Homo sapiens: one gene and its partners. The protein of the gene in region 1 purifies or fractionates together with the protein of each later gene. This does not show direct contact. Each region holds a gene or a part of one and is shown in the gene's direction. Other genes may lie near its edges.

Region 1 (4,241 bases):
GTAGCTGGGACTACAGGCGCCCGCCACCACGCCCGGCTAATTTTTTTGTATTTTTAATAGAGACGGGGTTTCACTGTGTTAGCCAGGATGGTCTCGATCTCCTGACCTCATGATCCGCCCGCCTTGGCCTCCCAAAGTGCTTGGGATTACAGGCCTGAGCCACTGCGCCCGGCCCCAGCTAATTTTTTATTTTTGTAGAGATGGGATCTCGCCTAGGGTGTTCTTGAACTCCTCCTGCCTTGGCCTCTCAAAGTGCTGGGATTACAGGTGTGAGCCTCTGCAGCCAGCCTGGGCTGCTGTCATTTATTTCAGCATGAGTTTGTAAGAACATGACCAAGACAGATTCCAGATTTCAAGGTTATTGTTGTTTAGGATGAAGTCACGTGATAAGTGTGAGTGGGCTGAGTTAGAGTGAGGCAAGCCCTGGGACACTGCAGAAGTTGTGGGGACAAGGATGGCTGCGGTTGGAACTCCAGGGAGTGAAGGCCCCCTCTGACCCAGTCCTGCCCTCTACCCTTCCAGGCTTTTTGAAATGGGTTTCGCAGAGCAGCTGCAGGAGATCATCGCCCGCCTCCCCGGGGGCCACCAGACGGTGCTGTTCTCCGCCACGCTGCCCAAACTGCTGGTGGAATTTGCCCGGGCTGGTGCGTGAGCTGGGGGTGGAGATGGGGGCTGGGGGTCAGGCTGGGGCCTGGGGGCCAGTCCCTCTGCGACTCCCCCACTTTCCCCCATGTCTCCTGCAGGCCTCACGGAGCCCGTGCTCATCCGGCTTGACGTGGATACCAAGCTCAACGAGCAGCTGAAGGTGAGGCTGCACCTGTCCCATCCCAGGAGGTTGTGTCCAGGTGGGCCCTGCAGGCCCTGGGCCAGGACCCCGTAAGCCAACACGTGATGCCCTCTCCCCACAGACCTCCTTCTTCCTCGTGCGGGAGGACACCAAGGCTGCCGTGCTGCTCCACCTGCTGCACAACGTGGTGCGGCCCCAGGACCAGACCGTGGTGTTTGTGGCCACGAAGCACCACGCCGAGTACCTCACTGAGGTGAGCAGGGTCCTGAGTGGGAGGAGCACCTCCTTCAGCTGGAGTTTGGAGCTGCAGTTCCCTGTGCAGTCACTAGAGGGCAGCACGAGAGCGGACCAGGAGCCTGGGCCTGGGCTCAAGATGGTCATTTTTATTTTTATTTTTTATTTTTTTGAGACGGAGCCTCGCTCTGCCATCCAGGCTAGAGTGCAGTGGCACAATCGTGGCTCACTGCAGCCTTGACCTTCCAGGCTCAAACAATTCTCCCGCCTCAGCCTCCCGAGTACTTGGGACTTCTGGCGCATGTCACCATGCCCAACTAACTTGTTACTTATTTTTATATTTTGTAAAGACAGGTTCTCACTCGGTTGCCCAAGCTGGTCTTGAACTCCTGGGCTCAGGTGATCCTCCCACCTTGGCCTCCCATAGTACTGGGATTATAGTACTGGGATTATGAAAACATTTCTTTTTTTTTTTTTTTGGAAATGGTATCTCACTCTGTCGCCCAGGCTGGAGTGCAGTGGCACGATCTCAGCTCACTGCAACCTCCACCTCCCAGGTTCAAGTGATTCTCCTGCCTCATCCTCCTGAGTAGCTGAGACTTCAGGCGCCACCATGCCTGTCTAATTTTTGTATTTCTCATGGAGACGGGGTTTTGCCGTGTTGGCCAGGTGGGTCTTGAACTCCTGACCTCAAATGATCTGCCCGTCTCAGCCTCCTAAAGTGCTGGGATTACAGGTGTAAGCCACAGCGCCTGGCCTAAACTTTTTATTGTGAGAAAATTTCAAACCAATTCTAAGATCAGAAAATAATATGATGAACCCCGGGTACTCGTTATCTAGGTACAACTGTTACCAGCTGATAGCTGGTCTTGACCTTCATCCGTTAGTTCCCCTTACATCCGGGTTATTTTGAAGCCTGTCCCTGCCATCCTGTTATTTTCCTGTAGATTTTTAGTATGTGGTTTGTTTGACTTCTTAAGATTGAGGCATGACCTGCATGTAGCAAGCTGTGTGAAGCGCTGTTAGCATGTGTGAGTGGCTCAAAGATTTTTTTCATATGTGTTATGCCTGTGTGACCCCCGCCTGGGTCAAAGCCTGGGGAGTCGCTGTGCCCCAGAAGGCAGTGGGGCCCCTTTCCGTTGGTGCCTGCCTCCCTGTCAGCTACACCTGGGTCTGTTATCTGAGGACATGGTTCACTGGGTTTCACTTACTCCACACACAGTTAACAACACTCCCTCTGTGCAGCTGCTGGGGTCACCAGTGAATAAGACCAAAATAGTAATTTTTAAACAGTTGTTTTTTTAGAGAGAGTTTTGCTCCTTTGGCCAGGCTGGAGTGCAATGGCATGATCATGGCTTACTGCAACCTCTGCCTCCTGGGCTCAAGTGATCCACCCACCTCAGCCTCCGAAGTACCTGGGACTGTAGGCACAAGTCATGCCTGACCATGCCAGCTCATTTTTTATTTATTTTAATTTTTTTTGTAGAGATGGTGTCTTGCTGTGTTACCCAGGCTAGTCTCGAGTTTCTGGTCTCAAGTGATTTTCCAGCCTTGGTTTCCCGAAATGCTGGATTACAGGCGTGAGCCACCATGCCCAGTTTAAATAGTAATCTGTAAAGAACAGCTAGCACTCTCATGAGTGTTCCATGTTGAGACTCTGTTCTCAGCACTGTATATACTGACTCATGTGATCCTCATAATAAGGCACAAAGAAGGGGCAGTTATTCGTACAGATGAGGAAAATGAGGCATAGAAAAGTTTGGTAACTTGCCCAAGGTCACACAGCTTGTTTGTAGCAGAATCCGGATAAGGCTTGTGCACTGAGGTGGCATTTGCAGCTTCCCTGAGAGGGCCCTCTGCACACATCATCTCTGATCCTCAGACAACCCTGCAGAGAGGTGGGAGGTGTTGTAAGCTCCATTCCTCCCCAAACTGGCATCACCCAGCAAGCTGGGATTCAGACCAAGGGTGCCAGACTCCAGAACCCGTGGTCTTGTCTCTGCACCTCAGTGCCCGTCCCCCGCCATGGTCTGGCTTCCTTTCCTTTCTCCTCCAAGTCTCCTTCTCACTTTGCTACCATCTTTGCTCTGAGCAGCTGCTGACGACCCAGCGGGTGAGCTGCGCCCACATCTACAGTGCCCTAGACCCGACAGCCCGCAAGATCAATCTCGCCAAATTCACGCTTGGCAAGTGCTCCACTCTCATTGTGACTGACCTGGCCGCCCGAGGCCTGGACATCCCGCTGCTGGACAATGTCATCAACTACAGCTTCCCCGCCAAGGGCAAACTCTTCCTGCACCGCGTGGGTAAGCAGCCCGTGGCTGGCCCTGGGGCAGGCAGGGGTGCCGGATCCTGGCAGAAGCCGAGGGTACAAGGCTTAACTCTTGACACTGCACATGGGGTGGCTGTGGGCCTTGTTTTAGAGACAGAGCCTCGCTATATTGCTTAAGCTGGTCTCAAACTCGCGATCGTGCCACTGCGATCCAGCCTGGGTGACGGAGCAAGATCTTGTCTCAAAAAAACCAAAAAAAAAAAACAACCCAATTATTCAGCTTATGGTTTTTTTGACTTTACAATAGCACCCATACAGCTGTTCTATTTTTTTCTTTCAGTACAGTATTCAATAAGTTACATGAGATACTCAACACTTTATTTTAAAATCGGCTATGTGTGGGATGATTTTGCCCAAGGGTAGGCTAATGGAAGTATTTGGAGCATGCTCAAGGCAGGCTGGCTGAGCTGCGATGTTTAGTGGGTTAGGTGCCGTGCGTGTGTTTTTGACGGCTATTGGGTTTATTGAGACGCAGCCCTTCGTAAGTCACGGAACAGCTGTGGTCTCATTTCAGAGATCACTGTCCCCCATTGCTCTCTGATGACATGGCCGTCATTTTGGTGTGTGTCCATTCTTCTGATGTTTCTATTTTAAGTTGTGGTAAAGTAGACATAGCATGCAATTCAGCATTTTGCCATTTCCCAGTGTGCAGTGGAGTGGCATTGAGTCTGTTCCCATTGTGCAACTGTCACCACCATCTGTCCCCAAAACTTTTTTTTTTTTTTTTGAGAGTCTTGCTTTGTACCCCAGGCTGGAGTGCAGGGGTGTGATCTCGGCTCACTGCAACCTTCACCTCCCAGGTTCTAGCTATTCTCTTGCATCAGCCTCCCGAGTAGCTGGGATTACAGGTGCTCGCCACCAGGCCCAGCTAATTTTTTGTGTTTTTAG
Region 2 (4,241 bases), on another chromosome or scaffold:
GCAGTTTGTGCCATAAGTGGAACAAAGCAAAGAGAATAGTCCCTGTAATTAGTCCTGTGTTTGAACTTAACAGCACTACTAAGCAGAGAGCTTGGGTTCCATCTGAAAGCTAGACCTTTAGGGATTTTCCAATTTAGTGAAAAAAGATAAGATAGGCCAACCAATGTCTTAAAAACTAGAACTACTAGTCATTCTCCATTACAACAAATATCACAATACAACTACATCAAAAATCTCAAGATTGCTAAGTCAGTATTTGACCCATTATTTTAATTTATAGTTCATAGAACAAAATTCTGGTATAGCAGAATGGAACCATTCATCCTGGGAACGTATAATAGGATCTGATTAATAAATATTTTGGTTTTGCTGATCAACTCTTTATAACTTCTTAAAATTTGGAAAATATAGAACTAATTTAAAATTCCTGTTAGAATCCAGTTACCTTCTGGTATTCAATGGAATATAGTCATATATCATCTCATGGTCATACCCTCTGTGAAATCTATCATTAAACGATTCATCATTGTGTAAACATCGTAGAATGTACTTACATAAACCTAAATGGTTTAGCCTACTGCATACCTATTGCTCCCAGGCTACAAAACCTGTACAGTGTGTTACTGTACTGTACTGAATACTGTAGGCAGTTGTAACACAATGGTAAGTACATATGTATGTAAACATAGAAAAGGTACAGTAATCTTATGGAGCCACCTCTGACTATGTGGTTCGTTATTGACTGAAACATTCTGTGGCGCATGACTGTACTTGGGCAGCTTCTGCTTCTCTTTCGATTGCAAATACAAACCTGTTTTTGTTTTAATCTTTGACTAAATAAAAATCCCTCTGTAAGTCCATAGAGAGTAAGCACATCTTAAAACACAATAAGGAAGAGAGAGGAGAAAAAGACAGTCAAAACAAAAACTCTGGGGCTTCCCTTATCAATTACCTAAATAATCCTTGTTAAAACTAAGTGCAGGCTATGTTTCCATTTTCTACTTTTTTATGCTTCTTCTCTTCTGTTCCTTCAGTGGTGGTAGCGCGGATGTTCAAATTTTCAGTTCTCAGTAAAGATTGTATAGACAGTCCCACGGTCTTCAGGTTTTTACTCTGTGCTACCCAAACCTACAGTAAATACTATAAAAGAAAACTTATTCAAACGTAATCTTTATCTGCAAAAACTATTGAAAAACGTTACCATTTAACTATTGCTGTAATATAGGGGGTTCCTTGAAATATGATAACCTGCTTGTTATAGCTACTTCAGCAGATCTTATCCTGTTGCATAGGGTATCAGCATATGCTTAATCATTTAGGTATATTATTCTCCCTTTATTTCTTTCTATGTAAACATAGAAAAGGTATAGTAATCATACATAGAACTGACATGCTAGGTATTGGAATTTTTGCTTCAGCCCTGCAAACAATCTTTCAGGAGGGTATGGATGGGAAGTTAGGGTTAGGAACCTTGGAAGAGGAATTTAAAGGGCTAAAAGAAGATAGCCTTCATGGATAATATTTTAACTAACTTCTCCGTTCTGTTCATTTGAACTACCATGTACTTCAGTTATTTTGGTATATCCTTTTCCTGCTTCATGCTAGAAAGTCTTTGACTTGTTAAGAAAGCAGGGCAGTGCAGCCTGAGTAGATAGGATAATGGGACAAGCTGGACCTGGGATGGGAGTAACATCCCAGGGAGTAACAAGTAATGAGAGAAGAAATGAGAATGATGAGTTCCCACCAGCTCCTTGGCTGCTTTCTTACCCATATATTTCTCTGTCCCTAGTTTTTTGTTTAATTTTTTCTTCATTTGTATATTATTTGGAAGAGGAATTGTAGAGGAATGGGATGGGGTGTAATACAGAATCATTTGATGCATGCTAACTACTTTGGGAAAAGATTTGTGTAAGGCTGGGAGTTTGACTGTTGGCTAAAGTGAAAAGGGGGGATTAGTAGGGAATGAAAATTGTTCAGGCTCTTTGCTCATCATTGCAAAGAATTGGATGTGTTGTGGACCTAGGAAAACACTCAAATTCAGTCATCCCCGTTTGGGATAGGTTTGAGGAACTACTGGCCAACCTACTAAATGAACAACATCAGATAGCGAAGGAACTATTTGAACAGCTGAAGATGAAGAAACCTTCAGCCAAACAGCAGAAGGAGGTAGAGAAGGTTAAACCCCAGTGTAAGGAAGTTCATCAGACCCTGATTCTGGACCCAGCACAAAGGAAGAGACTCCAGCAGCAGATGCAGCAGGTAACACTTTCCTTGGTCATATTAATATTGAATTATACCAAGGCCTAACTCTGAGGCTTTGGTATAATCTAAAATTAGCAGCTTTGTAAATGTCAGAGATAGTTACCTTACTACGTATTAAAACCGTAGTATCTTCACATCAGTTAGGAGCTTGAGAAGTCATCATGTTCATGTCCTGTGGCTCAGGGAAGACAGCACATAAGGACCCTAATGGTATTCGGAATTACAGATTTCAAAGAGTCCTCAGTAATCTATTCTGAAATTTAACCTTCACTGTGACAAGTAGTTTTTTTTCCCTTTTCCCTTTTCTTTTTTCTTTTTTTTTTGAGACGTAGTCTCGCTCTGTCACCCAGGCTGGAGTGCAGTGGCTCAATCTCAGCTCACTGCAAGCTCTGCCTCCCGGGTTCACGCCATTCTCCTGCCTCAGCCTCCCGAGTAGCTGTGACTACAGGGACTCGCCACCACACCCAGCTAATTTTTTGTATTTTTAGTAGAGACAGGGTTCACTGTGTTAGCCAGGATGGTCTCGATCTCCTAACCTCGTGATCCACCCGCCTCGGCCTCCCAGAGTGCTGGGATTACACGCGTGAGTCACTGCGCCCGGCCTTTTCCTTTTCTAATCTCAGTTCCTCCTCTGTTTAGAGGTTAAACTTCCTCTGGTTCTGTCATTTTGTTCAAGGGAACATGTCTGAGAAATTTATGCCAAGATCCTACGTTGTTCTCACACTCTTTGCAGAAAGCAAAATTTGTGTCATAAAGTTGCAAACATCTTAGTTAATGACTCTCTGGTGGCTGGGTGCAGTGGCTCACACATGTAATCCCAGCACTTTGGGAGGCTGAGGTGGGAGGATTGCTTGAGCAGGGGAGTTCAAAAGCAGCCTGGACAACATAGTGAGACTCTGTCTCTACAAAAAATAAAAATAAGGCTGGGCACAGTGGCTCACACCTGTAATCCCAGCACTTTGGGAGGCCAAGGCGGGTGAATCATGAGGTCAGGAGTTTGAGGCAAGCCTGGCCAACATGGTGAAACCCCGTCTCTACGAAAACAAAAAATTAGCTGGGTGTGGCGGCGGGCACCTGTAATCCCAGCTACTCGGGAGGTTGAGGCAAGAGAATCACTTGAACCTGGGAGGCAGAGGTTACAGTGAGCCGAGATCACGCCATTGCACTCCAGCCCAAAAGTCAGTGCGAGACTCTGTCTAAAAATAATAATAATAATAATAATAAAATAAATTAGCCAGGCATTGTGGTCACAGCTACTTGGGAGGCTGAGGTGGGAAGATTGCTTGAGCACAGGTGGTTGAGAGGGCATTGAGTCATGGTTGCACCACTGCACTCCAAGCTGTGTGACAGAGCAAGACCCTGTCTCCAGGGGGAAAAAAAAATATCTCTGGGCTCCTGAAATGGCAGTGTCATAACATATCACTGCATTATTTTCTTTCTCTCCCCAGCATGTTCAGCTCTTGACACAAATCCACCTTCTTGCCACCTGCAACCCCAATCTCAATCCGGAGGCCAGTAGCACCAGGATATGTCTTGTAAGTTTCCAAATTGCCGTAATTCTATAGACTAGAATATAAAATTAGCTTGGCAGGTTATTTCTCACAGTTATTCTCTCAGGTATTTTTGATTGCTGTGGCTTCCTATGTTTGCTGAGTGAACATAAGCCACTGATTCACATGAAAGGACAAAGAGTGTATTCAATTTTTTCTTTTCTTTTTTGAGACAGGGTCTTGCTCTTTCACCCAGGATGGAGTGCGGTGGAACAATTTCAGTTCACTGCAACCCCTGCCTCCCGGGTTCAAGTGATTCTCCTGCCTCAGCCTCCCAAGTAGCTGGGACTACAGGCGGGCACCACCACGGGTAATTTTTTTTGTATTTTTAGTAGAGACAGGGTTTTGCCATGTTGGCCAGGCTGGTCTCGAATTCCTGACTTCAAGTGATCTGCCCACCTCTACCTCCCAAAGTACTGGGATTACAGC
Region 3 (4,241 bases), on another chromosome or scaffold:
AAGAGACCTTAGTGTCAACATTCTTCATAGGCCCTCATTTACAGAGCTCCCTCTTTAGGCTAGGAAAGGCTCTTTGGTAAGTTTCTTTTTCTTTTTCTTTTTCTTTTTTTTAAGATGGAGTCTTGTTCTGTTGCCCAGGCTGGAGTGCAGTGGCACAATCTCGGCTCACTGCAACCTCTGCCTCCAGGGTTCACGCCATTCTCCTGCCTCAGCCTCCCGAGTAGCTGGGACTACAGGCACCCACCACCACGTCCAGCTAATTTTTTATATTTTTAGTAGAGACAGGGTTTCACCGTGTTAGCAAGGATGGTCTCGATCTCCTGACCTTGTGATCCGCCTGCCTCGGCCTCCCAAAGTGCTGGGATTACAGGCGTGAGCCACCGCGCCCAGCGTGTTTCAAATATAAAATGTGTTTTTTATTTTATTTTCTTGAGACAGAGTCTCGCTCTGTCCACCAGGCTGGAGTGCAGTGGCATGATCTCAGCTCACTGCAGCCTCTGCCTCCCCGGTTCAAGCGATTCTCCTGGCTTCAGCCTCCTGAGTAGCTCGGACTACAGGTGCGTGCCACCATGCCTGGCTAATTTTTGTATTTTTAGTAGAGATGGGGTTTCACCATGTTGGCCAGGATGGTCTTAATCTCTTGACCTCGTGATCCGCCCACCTCAGCCTCCCAAAGTGCTGGGATTACAGGTGTGAGCCACTGCACCCAGCCCATTTATTTTTTTGAAACAGAGTTTCACTCTTGTTGCCCAGGCTGGAATGCAATGGCGTGGTCTTGGCTCACTGCAGCCTCCGCTTCCCGTGTTCAAGTGATTCTCCTGTTTCAGCCTCCCAGGTAGCTGGGATTATAGGTGCCCGCCACCACACCCAGCTGATTTTTGTATTTTTATAGAGATGGGGTTTCATTATGTTGGCCAGGCTGGTCTCCAACTCCTGACCTCAGGTGATCCACCCGCCTCGGCCTCCCAAAGTGCTGGTATTACAGGCGTGAGCAGCCACGCCAGGCCCTCAAAGTATGTTTTAAAAACTGTAGATGAACTAAATTTTACTGCCCTGAAACAAGTAATTTGTTTTACTATTTGTTTACCATCCATATGCTAGGCACAAGGATAAAGCAGTGAGTGAGACTGGGAAGGAGACAGATACAGAAAGAAAAAATATTGGTGTCCACATAGGTGTGAAAACATGGGGATGTTCAGTGCAACTTAAGCATTCTGGCTTCACTGATGTAGGCAGTTGATGTTCTCACTAATACTCTTGTACAAACACAGTTGTAGTCCTCCCAGGCAGACATCTTCCTTAAGCCCCTTATACATAGAAACCACAGGACTATCAGATGAGTAATTTCTTTTTGCATATTCCCCAGTGTCAGATTTTTTTTTTTTTTTTTTTTTGAGACAGGGTCTGTCTCTGTCACCCAGGCTGGAGTGCAGTGGCACAATCTTGGCTCATTCCAGCCTCTGCCTCCTGGTTTCAAGCGATTCTTGTTCCTCAGCCTCCTGAGTAGCTGGGACCACAGGCGTGTGCCACCATGCTCAGCTAAGTTTTTTATTTTTACTAGAGACAGGGCTTCACCATGTTGACCAGGCTGGTCTCGAATTCCTGACCTCCAGTGATCTACCCGCCTCGGCCTCCCAAAGTGCTGGGATTACAGGCATGAGCCACCATGTCTGGCCCCCATTGTCAGATTTGAATTTTGATTGATTTAATTGCAGGCTTTGAGAACTGAAAAGGATCATTAGACAGCATCTTCTTTACCTTTCTTTAGTTAAATCTTATATATGCCATTTAAAATGTGTAGCTAAGGTCCAGTGCAGTGGTGCATGCCTGTAATCTCAGCACTTTGGGAGGCCGAGGAAAGTGGATCACTTGAGACCAGGAGTTCAAGACCAGCCTGGCCAACATGGCAAAACCCTGTCTCTACTAAAAATACAAAAATTAGCCAGGTGCAGTGGCGGACACCTGTATTCCCAGCTACTTGGGAGGCTGAGGCATGAGAATCGGTTGAGTGTGGGAGGCAGACTTTGCAGTAAGCCAAGATTGCACCACTGCACTCCAGCCTTGGCGACAGAGCAAGACTCTGTCTCAAAAGAAAGAAAAAAAGAAAGAAAATTTTTTTAAAAATGTGTAGCTAGGTTACCTATCAGAATAATATACTAGGGATCAGGAATCCTTGGTTATTTCTACTAACTAGTGAAAAAAAAAACAAACCTGGGCCAGGCCCTGTGGCTCACGCCTATAATCCCAGCACTTTGGGAGGCCGAGGCGGGTGGATCACTTGAAGTCAGGAGTTTGAGACCAGTCTGGCCAATGTGGTGAAACCCCGTCTCTACTGAAAATATGAAAATTAGCCAGGCGTGGTAGTGGGCACTTGTAGTCCCAGCTACTTGGGAGGCTGAGGCTGGAGAATCACTTGAACTGGGGAGGCAGAGGTTGCAATGAGCCGAGATGGTGCCACCACTGCACTCCAGCCTGGGTGACAGAGTAAGACTCTGTCTAAAAAAAAAAAAAAAAGGAAAGAAAGAAAGAAAAAACCTGGCTTTTCAGCACATCACTTTTCTGGGACTTAGTTCCTGCGTATGGAGAAAAACTCACAGTAGTATCTGGCATCTTAGATGGAAAAGTTATTTTTGTGGGATTGTCCTGTATTGAGCATTCCTGGCTAAATGAGTAGAGAATGAGTTCCCCACTCATTGTACTATTAAAACTACCCTTGCCCATTTCTTTTTTTCTTTTTCTTTTTCTTTTTTTTTTTTTGAGACAGAGTCTCGCTCTGTCGCCCAGGCTGGAGTGCAGTGGAGTGATCCTGGCTTGCTGCAGCCTCCACCTCCTGGGTTCTCCTGCCTCGGCCTCCTGAGTAGCTGGGATTACAGGCACATGCCACCAGGCCTAGCTAATTTTTGTATTTTTAGTGGAGACGGGGTTTCACCATGTTGGCCAGGCTGGTCTTGAACTCCTGATCTCAAGTGATCCACCCGTCTTGGCCTCCCAAAGTGCTGGGATTACAAGCGTGACCCACTGCGCCCGAACCCATTGCCTATTTCTTTTTTTTTTTTTGAGACGGAGTCTTGGCTCTGTCGCCAGGCTGGAGTGCAGTGGCGCGATCTTGGCTCACTGCAGCCTCCGCCTCCTGGGTTGAAGCAATTCTCCTGCCTCAGCCTCCCGAGTAGCTGAGACTACAGGTGCACGCCACCATGCCTGGCTAATTTTTGTGTTTTTAGTAGAGACGGGGTTTCACCATATTGGCCAGGATGGTCTCCATCTCTTGACCTTATGATCTGCCCACCTCGACCTCCCAAAGTGCTAGGATTATAGGCGTGAGCCACCGTGCCCGGCCGCCCCTTTCCCATTTCTGAAGAATGCAGAATAGCACTCCTGGTTGAGAACTACTGTCTTAATTTAATCTGATTCTAATAGTCTTTATCTTATTTTTGGATCCACTCTTCTCAGTTGTTAAAACACTGTCTTATTTGTGAGGGACTTTTACCTTTTTCAAATGCCATACATGTGTATGTATGCTCTTAGATAAGGAACTTGACTCAGCTACTATTATTTAAGAACCCACTATGCTCAAGAGATTGGATACAAATTATTCAGGATTACCAATTCTTGGTATTTGGAGTTGAAATCAGAATGTCACCGTATTAACCCAACATCGATCCCCAAACTGAGAACAAAAGGACAATTTAGAAAACCCAGGCCCACTTCAGTGCACTGCTCTGTCTGGAGAGCATCCAGTCCTATCCTGCTAAAGCCGGAAAATCCAGATAGGTAGACAAGACCAAGAATGATTGCTTACCAATACGTGGCCAGCTTTGATTTACTTACGTCTCCGATCACTGCCAAATTTTATTGAGGCCAATTCCAGACATCTTGTTTTATCCTTAAACACTTTAGGATGTGTCACCAAGAGAGAACTCTTTGTTATTTTTTTCCAAGTTTTAAAATTGTGGTAAAATATACATAACATAAAATTTATCATCTTAACCATTTTTAGGTGTATATTTTAGCGATATTAAGTACATTCAAATTGTTATGCAGCCATCACCACCATCCATCTCCAAAACTCTTTTCTTTTTTTTTTTTTTTTTGAGACAGGGTCTCGCTCTGTCGCCCAGGCTAGAGTGCAGTGGTGCAATCTCGGCTCACTGCAAGCTCTGCCTCCTGGGTTCACGCCATTCTCCTGCCTCAGCCTCCTGAGTAGCTGGGACTACAGGCACCCACCACCATGCCTGGCTAAT
Region 4 (4,241 bases), on another chromosome or scaffold:
CAGTCAATTTTTTTTTTCATTTCTATTCCGTAAAAGCAGTAAGATGAGATGCCCAGTCTTCATGTGTATTGGGCTGTTCGTCTAATAATAATTACCCTGTGGTTAGGGTGCCTTTTCTGTTTCAGATCTCTGTTCACTTACACCCAGTCCCACATTGTCCTGTTTAGAGTCCCTACAGGTCCTGGAACCTTGGAAAGGGAGGAGATGGAGAGAGGTGGGTGGTGCTTCCCATTTTCCTCCTGATTCAGAGGGCCTGGTTTCTGAGGGTTCATCCCCTGTGCGTGGGCCTCGGACTGCAGTTTCATAGGCATAGCCCCTTGCCAAAGGCTACCTAGGAGCCCTTTGTGTCTTCATGATGAGCCTTTGCCCTTGAGAGAAGTGTAGGCTGCTACGTCTCGGAAGTCAGCTCCTGCTTCATCATTTTTAGTTTTATTGTGCCTTAAGTGGAAATGACAGTGTTGTAGAATTTAACTTCAGAATTTGTTCACTGCATTTTCTAGAAAATCCCAGGCTGGGCTGGTTCTTCTCCAGTGTGGACCAGAATGAAACAAATTCTCAGATCCTGAATTCATCAGGATCTTGGGGCTGCTGAGCTCCTTTGGGATTGGAGCTTGTGTGGTTTTAAGAAAGCTGTTTCCACACTTCTGGGGAGGTGCCTGTTTGTAGGCACGGTGTTTTTCCTGTCCTTGAGGTTCCCTAACTTGGGAAGCTCAGGGCTTTGGGAGTGGGGAGTCCAAAGATGAACTGGCCTTGGTGCTGCCCAGTGACTCTTGGCCTTCTTTTGCTGCCTGGGCTAGCCTCAGAGGGAATGGCCCAGTCTGGGGGTGCTTTGCCTGGATTTGATAGAACATCTAGGCAGTTGCCCTCCTTTCCTTCCTGACATGCCAGCAGAAGAGAAATGCCTGGAGATATAAGGCTTGCTTCTTTTCTCTCTGTTTTTAAACCCTCCTCCCCTCCTCAATTCAGGAGCTGGTTTTCCATCCATCCCAGTCGGCAAGAGCCCCATGGTGGAGCAGGCTGTGCAGACTGGTTCTGCTGACAACCTGAATGCTAAAAAGCTGTTACCTGGCAAGGGCACCACAGGGACGCAGCTCAACGGTCGTCAGGCCCAGCCGAGCAGCAAGACGGCCAGCGGTACTTGAACACATCATTTCCTGGAGTTTGCTTGATGTTCTAAAAGTGGCACACTACTTCCTGGGCTATTTTTTTTTTTTTAATTAAAAAAATACTACTCCCCCATCCTAAGCCCCATGTGCTTTTGCAGGGCAGGCCTGTGCAGCAGCCTCCTGCGGTGCCGCCCTGGCCGCGTGCCCCATGGTGGTGGGGCCTGCTTCCACAGCTGGGTTCTGGCTTCCGGCTGCTATAGGAGCTTTGCCTTACTCTTCCCTTTTGCGCCGTAGATGTAGTCCAGCCGGCAGCTGTGCAAGCTCAAGGGCAGGTGAATGACGAGAACAGAAGACCTCAGAGGAGGCGATCAGGTAACACCTGTTGCCACTTGATTTCTGGGGACCACGAGTGATCAGGCTGAGCTCTGCTTGCCCTCCTGCCTGCTTCTCTGGTTGACGGTTTCAGGGGTGCTGGTGTGAAGTCGCTGCTTGTGTGCTCTGTTCCTTCTGTGGCCTTGGGGGTGTGCCTGGAAATTCCTTGTGAGGTGTTTGAGATCACTGGGTTGGTGACCTACTTCAGCCAGGGCTGTCCTTTGTCCTCACAGGAAACAGGCGAACAAGGAATCGCTCCAGAGGGCAAAACCGTCCAACTAACGTTAAGGAAAACACAATCAAATTTGAGGGTGACTTTGATTTCGAGAGTGCAAATGCCCAGTTCAACCGAGAGGAGCTTGACAAAGAATTTAAGAAGAAACTGAATTTTAAAGGTTTGGCTCATTATATGAAAATTATTCTCTGCACAGGAGTACCCCTAGAGAGTGTTAGGAGGAGATGCCTGGCCGGGTGTGGTGGTTCACGCCTGTAATCTCAGCACTTTGGGAGGCTGAGGTGGGTGGATCACCTGAGGTCAGGAGTTCAACACCAGCCTGGCCAACACAATGAAACCCCATCTGTACTAAAAATCCAAAAATTAGCCAGGCGTGGTGGTGGGCGCCTGTAATCCCAGCTACTCGGGAGACTGAGACAGGAGAATCGTTTGAACCCAGGAGGTGGAGGTTGCAGTGGGAGTGAGCCAAGATTGCGCCACTGCACTCCAGCCGGGCGATAGAGCAAGACTCTGTCTCAAGGAAAAGGAAGAGATGCCTAGAGGAACCGGGGATGCCAGGCGGATGGTGACCGGCAGTGAGGAATTAATGAAGTGAGGTGCTGGGAGGTGTGAAAATGGGTGGGATAAGGTGCAGACTGCACAGCCCAGACGGCAGAACGAGACCTGTACTTAGAAGGTAGAAGAAGAGATTTCTGCTTTGCACAAGGCATAGTTGATGTCTTAGCTTGAGGGTGGCTTCCGAGTGAGCCCGGAGGGACCACCCTGCTAAAAGGCTGTGCGCTCTGCCCCTCCTCCATCTCCACGTGTTCTGCTTCTTTTTGTAGATGACAAGGCTGAGAAGGGGGAAGAGAAGGACCTGGCTGTGGTGACCCAGAGTGCCGAAGCGCCCGCTGAGGAAGACCTTCTGGGGCCCAACTGCTACTATGACAAATCCAAGTCGTTCTTCGACAACATCTCTTCTGAACTCAAGACCAGGTGAGAGGCTGAATGAATGAGGGGAGGACAGTCCTCCAATCTAGAAAGGACAGGGCTGAGGGCTCTCAACCTGAGGGCAGAGCTGGACTCTGAGGCTCAGGGTAGCTGTTCTAGGGTCCTGCTTGCGTTTCTGCATGATGGGTGCCGGAGTCCCAGCAGGTTGCGTGTGGGAAGCCTCTTGGGGATCCCGACCCGAGGAGTTGGCTGAGGTCGAGCCTGTTTCCTCTTGGCTTTGCTGCCCTGTCCCCACAAAGGCTGGGCTGCACCGCCCCCCCCGGCAGACCCGTGTCCACATTCAGCATACCTCACGGTGCTCTGCTTGCTGGTCCCGCTGGCCTGGCAGCCTGAGGTCCTTGCTTAGCAGCCTGAGGTATGGCTAGAACGTGCTCACACTGGCTTTCCTTCACTTCATTGTTTGAGGCCAGGGACCATGTGGTGTGTTTTATTTTTCACACCTAACAGCTGGTCAGAAGTCCCGCGAAGCACCCTAGGGAGTGGGTGGCATCTACAGTGTGGGCCTGGCTTGGAAACTTGGGCCCATTTGTCCTGCAGATTGAGCGCCAGACATGCCGCGGGGCGTTGAGGGGGCCTCAGAAGGCAGGCTGGAGAGCGCCACCTCTTCAGGTTCATGTTCTGCCAGGGGAAAAATAGAACAGCATGTCGTGAAGGCCAGGCAGTGAGGGCGATGGGATGGGGCTGTAACTCGATGGGAAGTGGATGATCAGTTCTCACAGGCAGAGCAGGCTGCGCAGATGAGTGCGGGAAGTGCTTCCAGACAGGCCGAGTCTGGGGGATGGGTTCCTGTAGGGTTTTGTAGGGCATGGCAGTGACTTTGGCTTTTGTTCCAAGTGCCGCGGGAAGCCATCAGAGGGTTTTGTGCTGAAGCGTGGTGCGGTCTGATGTTTTACGGCGTCCTTGGTGAGAGTGGTTGGACGGTGGGCAAGTGTGGCTGCTGACTGGCCAGTTAGGGGCCAGTGCTGCAGCACAGGTGGCTTGGAACCAGGCAGTGGTGGTGACAGAGGGAAGGAGTAGAGTCTAAATGTGTCTTGAAGGTGGCGCTAACAGAATTGGCCAACATGACAAGAGAAGAGTCCAGAATGACTCCTAAGTCTTTTGGCCTGGGCGGCTGATGGGTGGAGTTGCTGTTTCTTTGAACACGGAAGTCTGTGGGAGCAGCAGGTTTCCGGCTGAAGAGGAGCTCAGGGTGGGTGTGCTGCTGGAGCTGTTGTCTGCGTCGGTAGGAGTGCTGGGTGGGAGTGCTGGGTGCACAGTTGGATGTGGGAGATAGTCTCCCACCAGCAGCTTGTTTGGGTGGCATGAGTGTCCATGCTGTATCCCTGTCTTTCAAACTCCCAAAGCAGAAGCATCACATTCCAGGGAACTTGTTCCATCTATCCTAGCCTCCTCCTTGTCTAGGAGGGTCCACTTCATGGTCCGGTCTCAGGTCTCCTGGGCCCCTGGGCCTCCCCAGGGCTCCTCTCTGTGCCCAGCGAGCAACAGCGGCTGCCTTGGTAGCCAACTAGTATCACTGCTTGCCTGTGGTGCCAGAGATG
Region 5 (4,241 bases), on another chromosome or scaffold:
AGTTGCTTCAGAGAATTAGTGTGTCTCTAAAGTGCTGTGGGACTTAAGGATACCATTCACTATTTCATAGAAAAGAACTTTGGCCAGAAGACTTCTTGGCAAGTTTTAGTCTACTAACTTAAGAACATATTTGTTCTTATGTCCTTTGGTCTGCCTTTTAAAGATGTCTGACTTCATCCTTCCTGGCCCAATAACTATAGGCTAAAGCCAGAAGTTGCCTTTTTAGCCCTGTGTTTCTTGCCACTGTCTTCTCTTATCCTCTTACAGTGTTGCTACTTACTTCCTTATTAATCTCTTTTTATACAATGTATTATTTTGTACTGTAATTATTTGTTTTCGTATCCACCTCTTGGCCATGGGCGTGCAGGGCAAGGTCTGTTTTGTTTAAAGTAATTCCATTACCAAGCAATATGCTTGGCACTTAGTAAACACTCAGTATATGTTTAAATGAATGAACATTCTCATATGTATATACAGGTAATTGACAATTAGAAAAGTAAGAATTTTTTAGTAGTCTAATTTTGTGCATGTATTTAGCTAGTGGCTACTATACTAGGAGCTATGGTCCAAATATCCAAATGGTATTTGCAACTGATGAATGTATGTATATATTTTCCTCCCAAATAAATCTAGGGTTATTTCTTCCACATGATACTCATTCATGAAAGCCCCTAATTACTTAAGGGGAAGATGAAAGTACTATGGTCTGAATGTTGGTGTCCCCTCAAAATTCATGTTGGACATCTCAAAAAAAAAAATATGTGAAAGGAGCCTGCTTGTTACCATGAGAGGACACAGAAGGTACCATCTGTGAAGAATGGGCCCTCACTAGACTCCAAGTTTGCTGATGCTTTAATCTTGAACTTCCCAGCCTGCAGAACTGTGAGCAATACATTTCTGTTTATAGCCGGGCACGGTGGCTCATGCCTGTAATCCCAGCACTTTGGGAGGCTGAGGCGGGCAGATCACGAGGTGGGGAGATGGAGACCATCCTGGCTAACACAGTGAAACCCCGTTTCTACTAAAAATATAAAAAATTAGCCGGGCGTGGTGGCGGGCGCCTGTAGTCCCAGCTACTCAGGTGGCTGAGGCAGGAGAATGACGTGAACCTGGGAGGCGGAGGTTGCAGTGAGCCGAGATTGCGCCACCGCACTCCAGCCTGGGCGGCAGAGCGAGACTCCGTCTCAAAAAAAAAAAAAAGAAAAATTCTGTTTATAAATTGCCTAGTTGGCTGGGCATTGTGGGCTCATGCCTGTCATCCCAGCACTTTAGGAGGCTGAGGTGGGTGGAGCACTTGAGTCCAGGAGTTCGAGACCAGCCTGGACAATGGGGCGAAACTCTGCCTCTACAAAAAAATAAAAAAAATAGCCTTAGTCAGGCATGGTGGTTCACACCTGTCGTCCTACCTACTTGAGAGGCTGAGGTGGGAGGATCACTTGAGCCTGGGAGGTTGAGGCTGCAGTGAGCTATGATCAAGCCACTGTACTCCAGCCTGGGCAACAGAATGAGACCCTGTCTCAAAAAATAAATAAATACTAAATTGCCTAGTCTAAGGTATTTTGTTATAGTAGCCCAAACAGACTAAGAGAGAAAGTTTTCATTTGAAAAAAAGTAGAAGTACCAATATATGTGTATCTTTAATAAATATTAACAAATGTGAAAGTCAACTCCATTTTTACTTACTTTGTCCAGTATGGTCTTATCTTTTTTTTTTTTTTTTTTTTTTTTTTTTTTACTTTGAGAGGAGTTTCGCTCTTGTTGCCGAGGCTGGAGTGCAATGGCATGATCTCGGCTCACCACAACCTCCGCCTCCTGGGTTCAAGCTATTATCCTGCCTCAGCCTCCTGAGTAGCTGGGATTACGGGCATGTGCCACCACACCTGGCTAATTTTGTATTTTTGGTAGAGACAAGGTTGCTCCATGTTGGTCAGGCTGGTCTCGAACTCCTGACCTCAGGTAATCCGCCCCTGGGATTACAGGTGTGAGCCGTCAGGCCTGGCCCAGTATGGTCTTACCAAAGGGATAATCTGAACACAGATCTCAGAGTCAGACTTTTTTTAAAATTCACTTTCATTCTTTTAAAATAAAAATAAGCGTATTATTGCATTATGACAGTATAGAAAGTAGAGAAAAGAAAATTATTAGTATTTATTTTGTTTTTCTTATGTGTATGAATTTTTATATAGCTACAGTCAGACTCATTGTAAAATTCTGATTTCTTTGACATTACATCAGAAGCATTTTTCACATTTATATATTGCTTTTATAACCATCACTTTGGTTTTTTTGGTTTTTATTGTTCCCGCCACCCCCGAGATGGAGTCTTGCTCTGTCACCCAGGCTGGAGTGCAGTGGCGCAATCTCGACTCACTGCAGCCTCCGCCTCCCGGGTTCAAGTGATTCTCCTGTGTCAGCCTCCCAAGTAACTGGGATTACAGGCACGCGCCACCACGCCTGGCTAATTTTTGTATTCTTAGTAGAGATGGGCTTTCACCATGTTGGCCAGGCTGGTCTTGAACTCTTGACCTTGTGATCCACCCGCCTTGGCCTCCCAAAGTGCTGGGATTACAGGCGTGAGCCACCCCGCCCGGCCCTTGTTTTTTATTAAGACAGGGTTTTGCTCTGTCACCCAGGCTGGAGTGCAGTGGCATGGTCATAGCTCACTGTAGCCTCAACCTTCCAGGATCAGACAATCCTCCCACTTCAGCCTCCTGAGTAGCTGGGACTATAGGTGCATGCCACCACACCAGGCTAATTTTTTTATTTTATTTTTTTAGAGATGGAGGTCTCACTATGTTGCCCAGACTGGTCTTGAATTCCTGAGCTGAAGCAATCCTCCCACCTCAGCCTCCTGAAGTGCTGGGATTACAGGCATGAGCCACTGTGCCTGGCCATAACCATAATTTTTTAAAAAACATTTGTTTATTGTATTATATTGTATTATAGTATATTACATATATATTTTTTGAGATGGAGTCTTGCTTTATTGCCCAGGCTGGAGTGCAGTGGCGTGATCTCAGTTCACTGCAACCTCCGTCTCCTGGATGGATTCAAGCGATTCTCCTGCCTCAGCCTCCTGAATACCTGGGATTACAAGCACCCACTACCGTGCCCAGCTAATAACCATCACTTTGGATGCCTAATATTTCACAAACATCCAACAATAAGAGAATGGTTACCTTGGCACTATTTTTTTGTTAAAAATTAATGCTGTTTTTATTTAATAAATATATTTTGTGTGTGTATAGCTTTAGGTACTAGTAATATTTTCTATATATGCCTTTATTTCCTTCGTCTAGTTTATCATAAGTGTAACTACTGGTCAGAGAATATGGATTTTTTTTGTTGTTGTTGTTGTTGATATGGAGTTTTGCTCTTGTTGCCCAGGCTGGAGTGCAATGGCGTGATCTTGGCTCACTGCAACCACCGCCTCCCGGGTTCAAGCAATTCTCCTGCCTCAGCCTCCCGAGTAGCTGGGATAACAGGCATGCACCACCATGCCCAGCTAATTTTGTATTTTTAGTAGAGATGGGGTTTCTCCATGTTGGTCAGGCTGGTCTCAAACTCCTGACCTCAGGTGATCCACCCTTGGCCTCCCAAAGTGTTGGGATTACAGACGTGAGCCACCACGCCCAGCCAAGAGTGTGGATATTTTAATGGCTGTTGATACACATTGAGATCAGGAGATTTTTTTTTTTTAAGCTGTGGCTCAGAAGCACATGTATTAGTTGTTTCACCTCTGAAAGAAAGAGCACATTAAGATGGAACTTAAAATTAGATCCATATTCAGAAACATGTAAATTTTTCTGCAAGTGGGAAAGGTCTAAGTAGTCTTGGCTTTTTTCCTAAAGCAAGTAAATGGTAATGGTTTTTCAGTAGTGTTTTTTGGCTTGGGGCCAAAGGTGTAGGACCTTACTCTTTGATCTTATGATTGCATGTCTGAAATTTTCTATGAAGCTTATGTACTGGCTCAGCAGTTGTGTAATATACGTGCAATAGAGATTTCATTAAAAGGGGAAAAAGATAAATTTGAGATTTTTACAGATGAGGTATTTTTAGGGCAATGTTTCTATTAGCTTACTCCGATAAAAATTTGTTGACTTTTATTTTTTAAATAACTTAAAACATAATTGAAGCATGTTCTTAAAACGTTATTGTGCAAGGTGTGAATTTTAAGGAGTCCTATTTGTAAGTTACATTAAGCTTTAGGAAATTTCTTTTGTTGATTCTTTAAAAGGTAA
Region 6 (4,241 bases), on another chromosome or scaffold:
TGAGTAACCACCAAGCAAACGGCTAGGACATGGCAGGTCAAGATGGAGGCAGGGTGGGAGCCTGGGCTTGCTGCCTGGTCTTTCAGGCCACCTCTGCCACTTACTGTGACTTCGGGCAGTTCACTTACCCTCCTGAGCCTTAGGTTTTCTCTCCAGATGGAGGTAGTATGATCATAGCAGTCTTAGTGGTATTGGGGGCAGTTGTGTTCATAAATGGGACACGGCTTTGTAGAGAGCTAATGATCATGTGTTCTATGGTGCAGACCCCGTCATCTTTTTCATGGGTATGGCATGTGATGAGAGCTCAGTAAACTGACCATACAGACAGACGAAGACGCAGCCAGGAGCACACGCAGAGGACCTGCGTGAGGGCCCCAGGTGTATCTGGGTGGATAGGATAGTGTCAGCATTCAGGAAATGTCTGCCGAATTGAGTTAAAGTGACTGAGCAAGAACCGAAGTATGCTCTCAACCAGTCCAAGAACACTGCCTTCTGCCTGCCTTTCTCTTTTAACATGCGCATGTGGCCAGAAGGAAAGCATGTAGAATCTCTCTGGCTGCGCTGGGACTGGACATTGGGCAGAGGGAGTTGGGGAGCCAGGGAAGGAAAAGAGGACTCTATTTAGATCCAGCCCCATGAAAAAACTGCTGTCTTTTTACACTTAGGGCTAGATGTTGAAATCTGTCACATCTGAGCCCGGCAGACTGGGTGTCCTCAAAATCTTAATGCAGTTTTAAGCTTTCATAATTTCAGAAGCATAAATGATCCAAACTTGCCAAAACATCATTTAAAATTTAATTAAGGCCGGGCGCGGTGGCTCACGCCTGTAATCCCAGCACTTTGGGAGGCCGAGGCAGGCGGATCACGAGGTCAGGAGATTGAGACCATCCTGGCTAACACGGTGAAACCCCATCTATCTCTACTAAAAAATACAAAAAATAAGCTGGGCGTGGTGGCGGATGCCTGTAATCCCAGCTACTCGGGAGGCTGAGGCAAGAGAATGGCATGAACCCGGGAGGCGGAGCTTGCAGTGAGCCAAGAATGCACCACTGCACTCCAGCCTGGGCGACAAAGCGAGACTCCTTTCTCAAAAAAAAAAAAAAAAAGTTTAATTAAATTTCCTTCATGCTTATCTAGTCTTGTGGAATTTGAACAATACCGTTTTACTTTTTTGTTTTAGGCAATGTTTGCTGTCTTCCATTGGAGTGACTGAATTTCTACATGACGGCTTTTTGTAAGTTTGTAGTATTTACATTTTTGTTTTAGGCAATGTTTGCTGTCTTCCATTAGAGGGACTGAATTTCCACCTGACGGCTTTTTGTAAGTTTGTAGCATTTACGCTTACGAATATTAAGCCTGCACTAAGACCTGGGACACCCTGTCTGCTGTGCAGTTAGGCTGACTTTGAAGCTTCTGATGGTTTTGAGCTTTTCTTTGAAGCCCAAGCAAGTGTTTATGGCATAAATTACAGGTATTTTCGCCTGGGGCTAGGTTGGGTTTGAGGTGTAATCAAGGTGCTGGACTGTCCTCCAGGCTCTGAATAAAGGAGAGGTAAGCTCCTTACAGACATTAGCTCATTAGCCAAGCAAGTGGACACAGAGCTGTTCCCATTTCATGGCAAGTGTAAAAATCCGGAGGAAGGCAGGAAGAGACAGTTCTGACTTCCTGTGCAATCCACCCATTTGGCCTTAAACAAGTAAAGACCAAATGAAAATGATGTGAGAGTTATTTTTTAGCTGGACATGTAACCAGATTCTAATCACCTTCTGAATTGATATTTAATTACACTGTAGTGTGTAGCCGATCTCCAGAGAGATAGAATGTTTGGCACAGTTACTCTTGAGTATCTTTTTGTCAACATCACTGCTTTCACTGCTTCTTTCAGTCAATATATTTTGTTTCCAGCTTCCTTCCTAGGCCTTTAATTCCTGCTGGGACAGGAATCTCTCAATTCACTCTTAAGCCTTGTCGAAACCTTTCTTCCTCCCATCTCCCACTCCATCCAGAAATAGAATTGTCCTCAGCAACAGAGGTTGGCAAGCTCTAAGCCGTATCTAAGTTTCAGAGACTGTTTTTTGTTGTTGTATCTTATTAGAAAAGTGCTTTAACGTTTTTCAGCAGATAATTTGGCATATCACGGCTGCTTTCACCTTGTGCCTGTGATGACAATCTATTTCTTGGTGACTAATAAGTTATTCCTGCTCTTACACCAAAGTGCACCTCCATGCTCTTTGAGAATGTGATGTTGGCTCTTATTCCAGCCTTTGTTCTCCCTTGTCAGGCAGGATAGCTGCTCTTGTTGCCTGACATGTTGATCATCCCTCTGCCTTTTTTTAGAATGGTAAGCTTTGAGGGAGCTGGGTTGTGGGAAACGTGATTCCAGCTCCCAGGAGCTTGACAATATCACACATCTTTACAGTAAGCAGATGAGAAGATGACAGTTGCTGCAGCACATCGAGGGTAGTCATGTTTTCCTTCCTGAGGATTTGGTGCTAGGTTGTAGCTGACCACATGCTGTCCGTTTACTAACATACACTGATAGTGAGCTGAGGAGCGGGGCCTGGGACCGCGGAATCAGGGGTCTGTGGTTTGTATGTAGCGTAGAAGCTGAGCTGATGTCTGATAGTGTCCCACAGGGCAAGAGGCCTCCACAAGAGACCAGCTGGACCTTTGTGAACCCTGGAGATGCAGCCAGGATGTACATTTCCATTCAAGGCTGAATGGACATGAATAACCTTGGTCGTTGCTTGGGTGTGGCCTCACTGGCAGTGATCCAAAACATGCTGGTGGAGGAGCAACGGTGATTTCATGCATGGGAATTCTCTGCAAACCAAGGGTAGATCATTTGTACTGAAAGCTTGTTGGATGAAGTCCTACCCTGAAGTAAATTGCATCGGTTTACTTGACCCTCACCTTTATTTTCCTAATGAGGAAGAAAGCTCTGGGTTAAACAGTTCTCAGTATTTTTGCTGTAAAACTTATAATGTAAAACAACAATGCTGTTTTAAAATCTAGTGATTAAAAATTATGTAAGTATGGAAAATTACTGTGACTTCTCTAACACTTCTAGACGAATTTGTGTTTTCCTGAGCACGGTAGCATTTCTGTGAAATTTTACAATGATGTTTATGTGCGTGTGCAGACATACTTCTTTTTGGGGCAGTGCTCGGGACACCTGGGTTTGTGAACTCCAGTAATTCAGCACCCAGCAGTTGGGACACCTGGACTTGGTTCCGTTTCTTTCTGACTTGTCTGACAAGCTGCCACATGAAGAAGGCCCCTGTCCATTACAGCTGAGGCGCATGTCCTCATTTTAACCTTTGTAGATATATAGTAATATTGATATGAATGCTTTTAGTGCCATAGAAATTGTGCCCATAGAATTGCCTCTTCTTCACTTTCTAAACTTCACTCAGTTTTCCTCTTGCTGTGTTCTTAGTATATTTGAGGACCTGAAATAGTTTGTAGTGTACACCTAAATTGCAATGCCTTCTATAAGTTTCATATACAGAGAGAGAGTTTAAGGTATTATGGAAAGTAAGATTTAACACCCTCAAAGCTCTTCATCTTGAGAGCCAATCTGCCAGGTTTAAATCCTGGTTCTGTTAACCGTGTATCCTTGGGCAAGTTATGTAATCTCTGTGTCTCAGTTACCTCATATAAATTTTGAACAATAATAGTCCTTCCCTCATAGGGTTACTGCGGGGATTGAATAAGTGAATAAATGTAAAGCCTCTAGAATAGTGCCTGGCACGTGGTAAGGACACAATAAATGTTAGCCATTCTCATTGTTAATGTTAGTTTTACTTATATGAATGGTGGAATTTTATGTAGATTGCTAATCAACTTTGACTCTGTTATTTTCATGTGAAATTATGGTTGAAAAGTTAGGGGCATGAGCCATTTATTGAAATGAGAAGTTTCAGTTTATAATTATAATTGTCTTTTTTTCCTTAGGACAAGACTTAAAACCTGTCTTGGATAGAGAATATTTAGCCATTTACCTAAAAATGGTATTTTTTACATGCAATGCATGTGGTGAATCAGTGAAGAAAATACAAGTGGAAAAGCATGTGTCTGTTTGCAGAAACTGTGAATGCCTTTCTTGCATTGACTGCGGTAAAGATTTCTGGTAAGCTTCACAGAATTCATGTAGATCCATAGTAAATCCAGATCAGTTTTGGAAGCCTTGGCGCCACAAAGCTTGGAAAAATAGTGGCAAATTTGAAGAATGAAATTAA
Region 7 (4,241 bases), on another chromosome or scaffold:
CACAAGAGCCCAACCAACTGTCCCATTTTTGCCCTGACCTTTGCCCTGGTAGTCCTGGCCTTTCCCGCCTACCTGCTGGGCATTGACAGCGGGCGACTGCAGGAGAAGCTGACCAGCCGCAAGATGGACAGCCGCTGGGGCGGGCGCAGCGAGTCCATCAATGTGACCCTCAACGTGGAGCAGGCAGCCTACACCCGTGATGCCCTGGCCAAGGGGCTCTATGCCCGCCTCTTCGACTTCCTCGTGGAGGCGAGTGGGGCTGGGGCTGGAAGGCAGAGTGGATGCTCTGGGGTCACAAACATTTATGGAAGCTGAGTGCAGTGGCTCACGGCTGCAATCCCAATGCTTTGGGTGGCTGAGTTGGGAGCATTCTTTGAGGCCAGAAGTTCAAGACCAGCCTGGGCAACATAGCAAGACCCCCATCTCTACAGAAATTTCAAATTAGTTGGGTGTAGTGGTGTGCATGTGTAGTTCTGGCTACTCAGAGGGCTGAGGTTGGGGGATCATTTGAACCCAGGAGGTTGGGGCTGCAGTGAGCTATGATTGCGCTATTGTACTCCAGCCTGGGTGACAGAGCAAGACCCTGTCTCTAAAAAAAACTTTTGGCCAGATGCAGTGGCTCATGCCTGTAATCCCAGCACTTTGGGAGGCTGAGGTGGATGGATCACTTGAGGTCTGGAGTTTGAGACCAGCCTGGCCAACATGGTGAAACCCCCTCTCTACTAAAAATTACCCGGGAGTGGTGGCACATGCCTTTAATCCCAGCTACTTGGGAGGCTGAGGGAGGAGAATCACTTGAACCTGGGAGGTGGAGGTTGCAGTGAGCTGAGATCGTGCTATTGTATTCCAGCCTGGGCAACAGAGAGAGACTCTGTCTCAAAATAAATAAATAAATAAAATAAAAACTTTTTTAATGTATGGAGTCAGCCTGGGCAACATGGCAAAACCCTGTCTCTACAAAAATACAAAAATTAGCCGGGCATGGTGGCTGGTGCCTGTAATCCCGGCTACTCAGGAGGCTGAGGTGGAAGAATCCCTGACCCCAGGAGGTTGAGGCTGTAGTGAGCCATGATCAAGCCACTACACTCCAGCCTGGACAACAGACTGAGACCCTGTCTCAAAATAAAAAATAAAAATAAATAAAGTATAAAATGTATGGCCAGGTGCAGTGGCTCATGCCTGTAATCCCAGCACTTTGGGAGGTCAAAGCGGGCAGATCACCCAAGGTCAGGAGTTCAAGATCAGCCCTGGCCAGCATGGCAAAACCCCGTCTCTACTAAAAATACAAGAATTAGCCGGGCGTGGTGGCGCATGCCTGTAATCCCAGCTACTTGGGAGGCTGAGGCAGAAGAATCTCTTGAATCCTGGAGGCAGAGGTTTCAGTGAGCCGAGATTGCGCCACTGGCATTCCAGCCTGGGCAACAGAATGAGACTCCATCTCAAAAAAAATAGAAAAGAAAAAGCCCCATAAGGTAGTTGCTATTATCAACCCCTTTTAAAGATAAGAAAATAGAGGTGCAAGGCCGGGCGCAGTGGCTCACACCTGTAATCCCGGCACTTTGGGAGGCCGAGGCGGGCGGATCACGAGGTCAGGAGATCGAGACCACAGTGAAACCCCGTCTCTACTAAAAATACAAAAAATTAGCCGGGCGTGGTGGCAGGCCCTTGTAGTTCCAGCTACTTGGGAGGCTGAGGCAGGAGAATGGTGTGAACCCTGGAGGCGGAGCTTGCAGTGAGCCGAGATCATGCCACTGCACTCCAGCCTGGGCGACAGAGTGAGACTCCGTCTCAAAAAAAAAAAAGAAAAAAAAAAAAAGAAAATAGAGGTGCAGAGAGGTTCAGGGGCAGAGTCAGCTCTGGAGTCAGGGACCCTGATACACTGACACTTGGGTTTCTCCTCTGAGTGACTGATTATGGGGTGGGGAGACTGTACACAGAGCCAGGAAGGGCAGAGCTAAAGAGGGCTGGAGGGAAACTGGCATGAGGGGACATCACCCATGAAGTTGGCTAGGCGTGTGTCTAAGGAGTGGTGGGCAGGGGCTTCAGATCTGACCGATGCCCACTGACTTCCTGTCCCCACCCACACCGCAGGCCATCAACCGTGCTATGCAGAAACCCCAGGAAGAGTACAGCATCGGTGTGCTGGACATTTACGGCTTCGAGATCTTCCAGGTACGGCCCCCTGCCTCCAGCCCACATCCTGTCCTCCCTGGGGCAGCCCAGGGTGGCCACAAGAACTTCCAGCACCAGGACATTGAGGGAAGGACCCTTTTCCTCCTTCTGCAGAAAAATGGCTTCGAGCAGTTTTGCATCAACTTCGTCAATGAGAAGCTGCAGCAAATCTTTATCGAACTTACCCTGAAGGCCGAGCAGGTGGGCGGCCAAGCAGTCAGGGATGGGGGATCCTGGGGTGGGGGTGGGGTGGAAGGACCATGAGGATCCCTTAGCAACTAGGGGACACCCCAGCCCTCCCCACCGCGTTCCCACCTCTCTGTGCCAACCTACCCAGGCTCCATAGTGATACTTCCTTCTGCCTCTAAAGCTTTGGGAAGGACCGTGCCTCTTAGTTCATTCATTCAGCAATTATTTATTGAGCACCTGTTGTGTGCCAGGTACTGTTTAGGGTGCTTGGAGACACAGCCATGAACAATAAGGCAATAGTCCCTGCTGTCTTCATTTTGCCCCTCCCCCAGAAGCAGAGCCTGAGGCAAGGATTCAGAGACAAATGGTTTTTCTGGGAGGCAATCCCAGGAAGCTCCAAGAGGAGACTGAGGAAGTAAGTCAGGGATTTTTTTTTTTTTTTTTGAGACAAAGTCTCGTTCTGTCACCCAGGCTGGAGTGCAGTGGCATGATCTCGGCTCACTGCAACCTCCGCCTCCAGAGTTCAAGTGATTCTCCTGCCTCAGCCTCCCGAGCAGCTGGGACTACAGGCACCCACCACCATGCCCAGCTAATTTTTGTATTTTTAGTAGAGACAGGGTTTCATCATATTGGCCAGACTGGTCTCAAACTCCTGACCTCGTGATCCACCCACCTCAGCCTCCCAAAGTGCTGGGATTACAGATGGGAGCCACCATTCCCCGCTTTTTTTTTTTTTTTTTTTTTTTTGAGACAGGAACTCGCTCTGTTGTCCAGGCTGGAGTGCAGTGGTGTGATCACAGGTCACTGCAGTCTACACCTCCTGGGCTCAAGCAATCCTCCCACTTCAGCCTCTCAAGTAGCTGGGACCGCAGGCACACACCATCATGCCTGGCTAATATTTTAAAACTTTTTTGTAGAGTTGGTGTTTCACTTTGTTGCCCAGATTGGTCTTGAACTCCTGGCCTCAAGCAATCCTCCTGCCTTGGCCTGCCAAAGTGCTGGGACTACAGGCATGAGTTAATATGCCCAGTCCTGAGACAGGGATTTTTTTAACAAAGAGAGAGAGAGAGGCTGGGTGCAGTGGCTCACGCCTGTAATCCCAGCACTTTGGGAGGCTGAGGTGGGTGGATCACCTGAGGTCAGGAGTTTGAGACCAGCCTGGCCAACATGGTGAAACCCCATCTCTACTAAAAATATAAAACTTAGCCAGGTGTGGTGCTGGGCACCTGTAATCCCAGCTACTCAGGAGTCTGAGGCAGGAGAATTGCTTGAACCCAGGAGGCAGAGCTTGTAGTGAGTCGAGATTGTGCCATTGCACTCCAGCCTGGGCAACAGCAGAATGAGACCCTGTCTCAAAAAAGAAAAGAAAAAAAGAGAGAGACAGACCGAGCCAGACACAATCACTCACACCTATAGTCCCAGCTATCTAGGAGGCTAAGTTAAGAGGATCGCTTGAGCCTGGGGGTTCAAAGCCAGCCTGGACAACATAGTGAGACCTCATCTCTACAAAAAACATAAAAATTAGCCAGGCATGGTGGTGTGCTCCTACGGTCCCAGCTACTCGGAAGGCTGAGATGAGAGGATCACTTGAACCCTGGAGGTCAAGGTTGCAGTGAGCTAGGATCGCATCGCTGAGTTCCAGCCTGGGTAACAGAGCAAAACCCGGTCTCAAAAAAAAAAAGCAAGCTGTGTGCGGTGGCTCATGCCTGTAATCCCAGCACTTTGGGAGGCCGAGGTGGGCAGATGTCCTGAGGTTGGGAGTTCGAGACCAGCCTGACCAACATGGAGAAACCCCATCTCTACTAAAAATACAAAATTAGTCCGGCGTGGTGGCACATACCTGTAATCCCAGCTTCTCGGGAGGCTGAGGCAGGAGAATC

Evidence for each region.
Region 2: the proteins of DDX54 (region 1) and YY1AP1 purify together in Homo sapiens (affinity purification with mass spectrometry; one large-scale study listed by BioGRID and IntAct). This does not show direct contact.
Region 3: the proteins of DDX54 (region 1) and CLTCL1 purify together in Homo sapiens (affinity purification with mass spectrometry; one large-scale study listed by BioGRID and IntAct). This does not show direct contact.
Region 4: the proteins of DDX54 (region 1) and LSM14B purify together in Homo sapiens (affinity purification with mass spectrometry; one large-scale study listed by BioGRID and IntAct). This does not show direct contact.
Region 5: the proteins of DDX54 (region 1) and RBM27 purify together in Homo sapiens (affinity purification with mass spectrometry; one large-scale study listed by BioGRID and IntAct). This does not show direct contact.
Region 6: the proteins of DDX54 (region 1) and LYAR purify together in Homo sapiens (co-immunoprecipitation; 2 studies listed by BioGRID and IntAct, with this or other methods). This does not show direct contact.
Region 7: the proteins of DDX54 (region 1) and MYO1F purify together in Homo sapiens (affinity purification with mass spectrometry; one large-scale study listed by BioGRID and IntAct). This does not show direct contact.

What each region holds. Positions count from the first base shown.
Region 1 is NC_000012.12:113,171,439-113,175,679, reverse strand, and holds part of DDX54 (ATP-dependent RNA helicase DDX54), read left to right. Parts: intron 1-522; coding exon 523-644; intron 645-743; coding exon 744-805; intron 806-908; coding exon 909-1,040; intron 1,041-3,116; coding exon 3,117-3,327; intron 3,328-4,241.
Region 2 is NC_000001.11:155,674,566-155,678,806, reverse strand, and holds part of YY1AP1 (YY1-associated protein 1), read left to right. Parts: intron 1-2,060; coding exon 2,061-2,259; intron 2,260-3,710; coding exon 3,711-3,797; intron 3,798-4,241. UniProt on the Homo sapiens protein: Associates with the INO80 chromatin remodeling complex, which is responsible for transcriptional regulation, DNA repair, and replication. Enhances transcription activation by YY1. Plays a role in cell cycle regulation.
Region 3 is NC_000022.11:19,281,145-19,285,385, reverse strand, and holds part of CLTCL1 (clathrin heavy chain 2), read left to right. Parts: intron 1-4,241. UniProt on the Homo sapiens protein: Clathrin is the major protein of the polyhedral coat of coated pits and vesicles. Two different adapter protein complexes link the clathrin lattice either to the plasma membrane or to the trans-Golgi network.
Region 4 is NC_000020.11:62,128,819-62,133,059, forward strand, and holds part of LSM14B (protein LSM14 homolog B), read left to right. Parts: intron 1-106; coding exon of another isoform or gene 107-214; intron 215-966; coding exon 967-1,134; intron 1,135-1,400; coding exon 1,401-1,478; intron 1,479-1,711; coding exon 1,712-1,873; intron 1,874-2,537; coding exon 2,538-2,688; intron 2,689-3,537; exon of another isoform or gene 3,538-4,241. UniProt on the Homo sapiens protein: mRNA-binding protein essential for female fertility, oocyte meiotic maturation and the assembly of MARDO (mitochondria-associated ribonucleoprotein domain), a membraneless compartment that stores maternal mRNAs in oocytes.
Region 5 is NC_000005.10:146,209,761-146,214,001, forward strand, and holds part of RBM27 (RNA-binding protein 27), read left to right. Parts: intron 1-4,241. UniProt on the Homo sapiens protein: May be involved in the turnover of nuclear polyadenylated (pA+) RNA.
Region 6 is NC_000004.12:4,283,512-4,287,752, reverse strand, and holds part of LYAR (cell growth-regulating nucleolar protein), read left to right. Parts: intron 1-1,180; 5' UTR 1,181-1,234; intron 1,235-3,957; 5' UTR 3,958-4,010; coding exon 4,011-4,132; intron 4,133-4,241. UniProt on the Homo sapiens protein: Plays a role in the maintenance of the appropriate processing of 47S/45S pre-rRNA to 32S/30S pre-rRNAs and their subsequent processing to produce 18S and 28S rRNAs. Also acts at the level of transcription regulation.
Region 7 is NC_000019.10:8,546,168-8,550,408, reverse strand, and holds part of MYO1F (unconventional myosin-If), read left to right. Parts: intron 1-52; coding exon 53-249; intron 250-2,091; coding exon 2,092-2,172; intron 2,173-2,286; coding exon 2,287-2,373; intron 2,374-3,083; exon of another isoform or gene 3,084-4,241. UniProt on the Homo sapiens protein: Myosins are actin-based motor molecules with ATPase activity. Unconventional myosins serve in intracellular movements. Their highly divergent tails are presumed to bind to membranous compartments, which would be moved relative to actin filaments.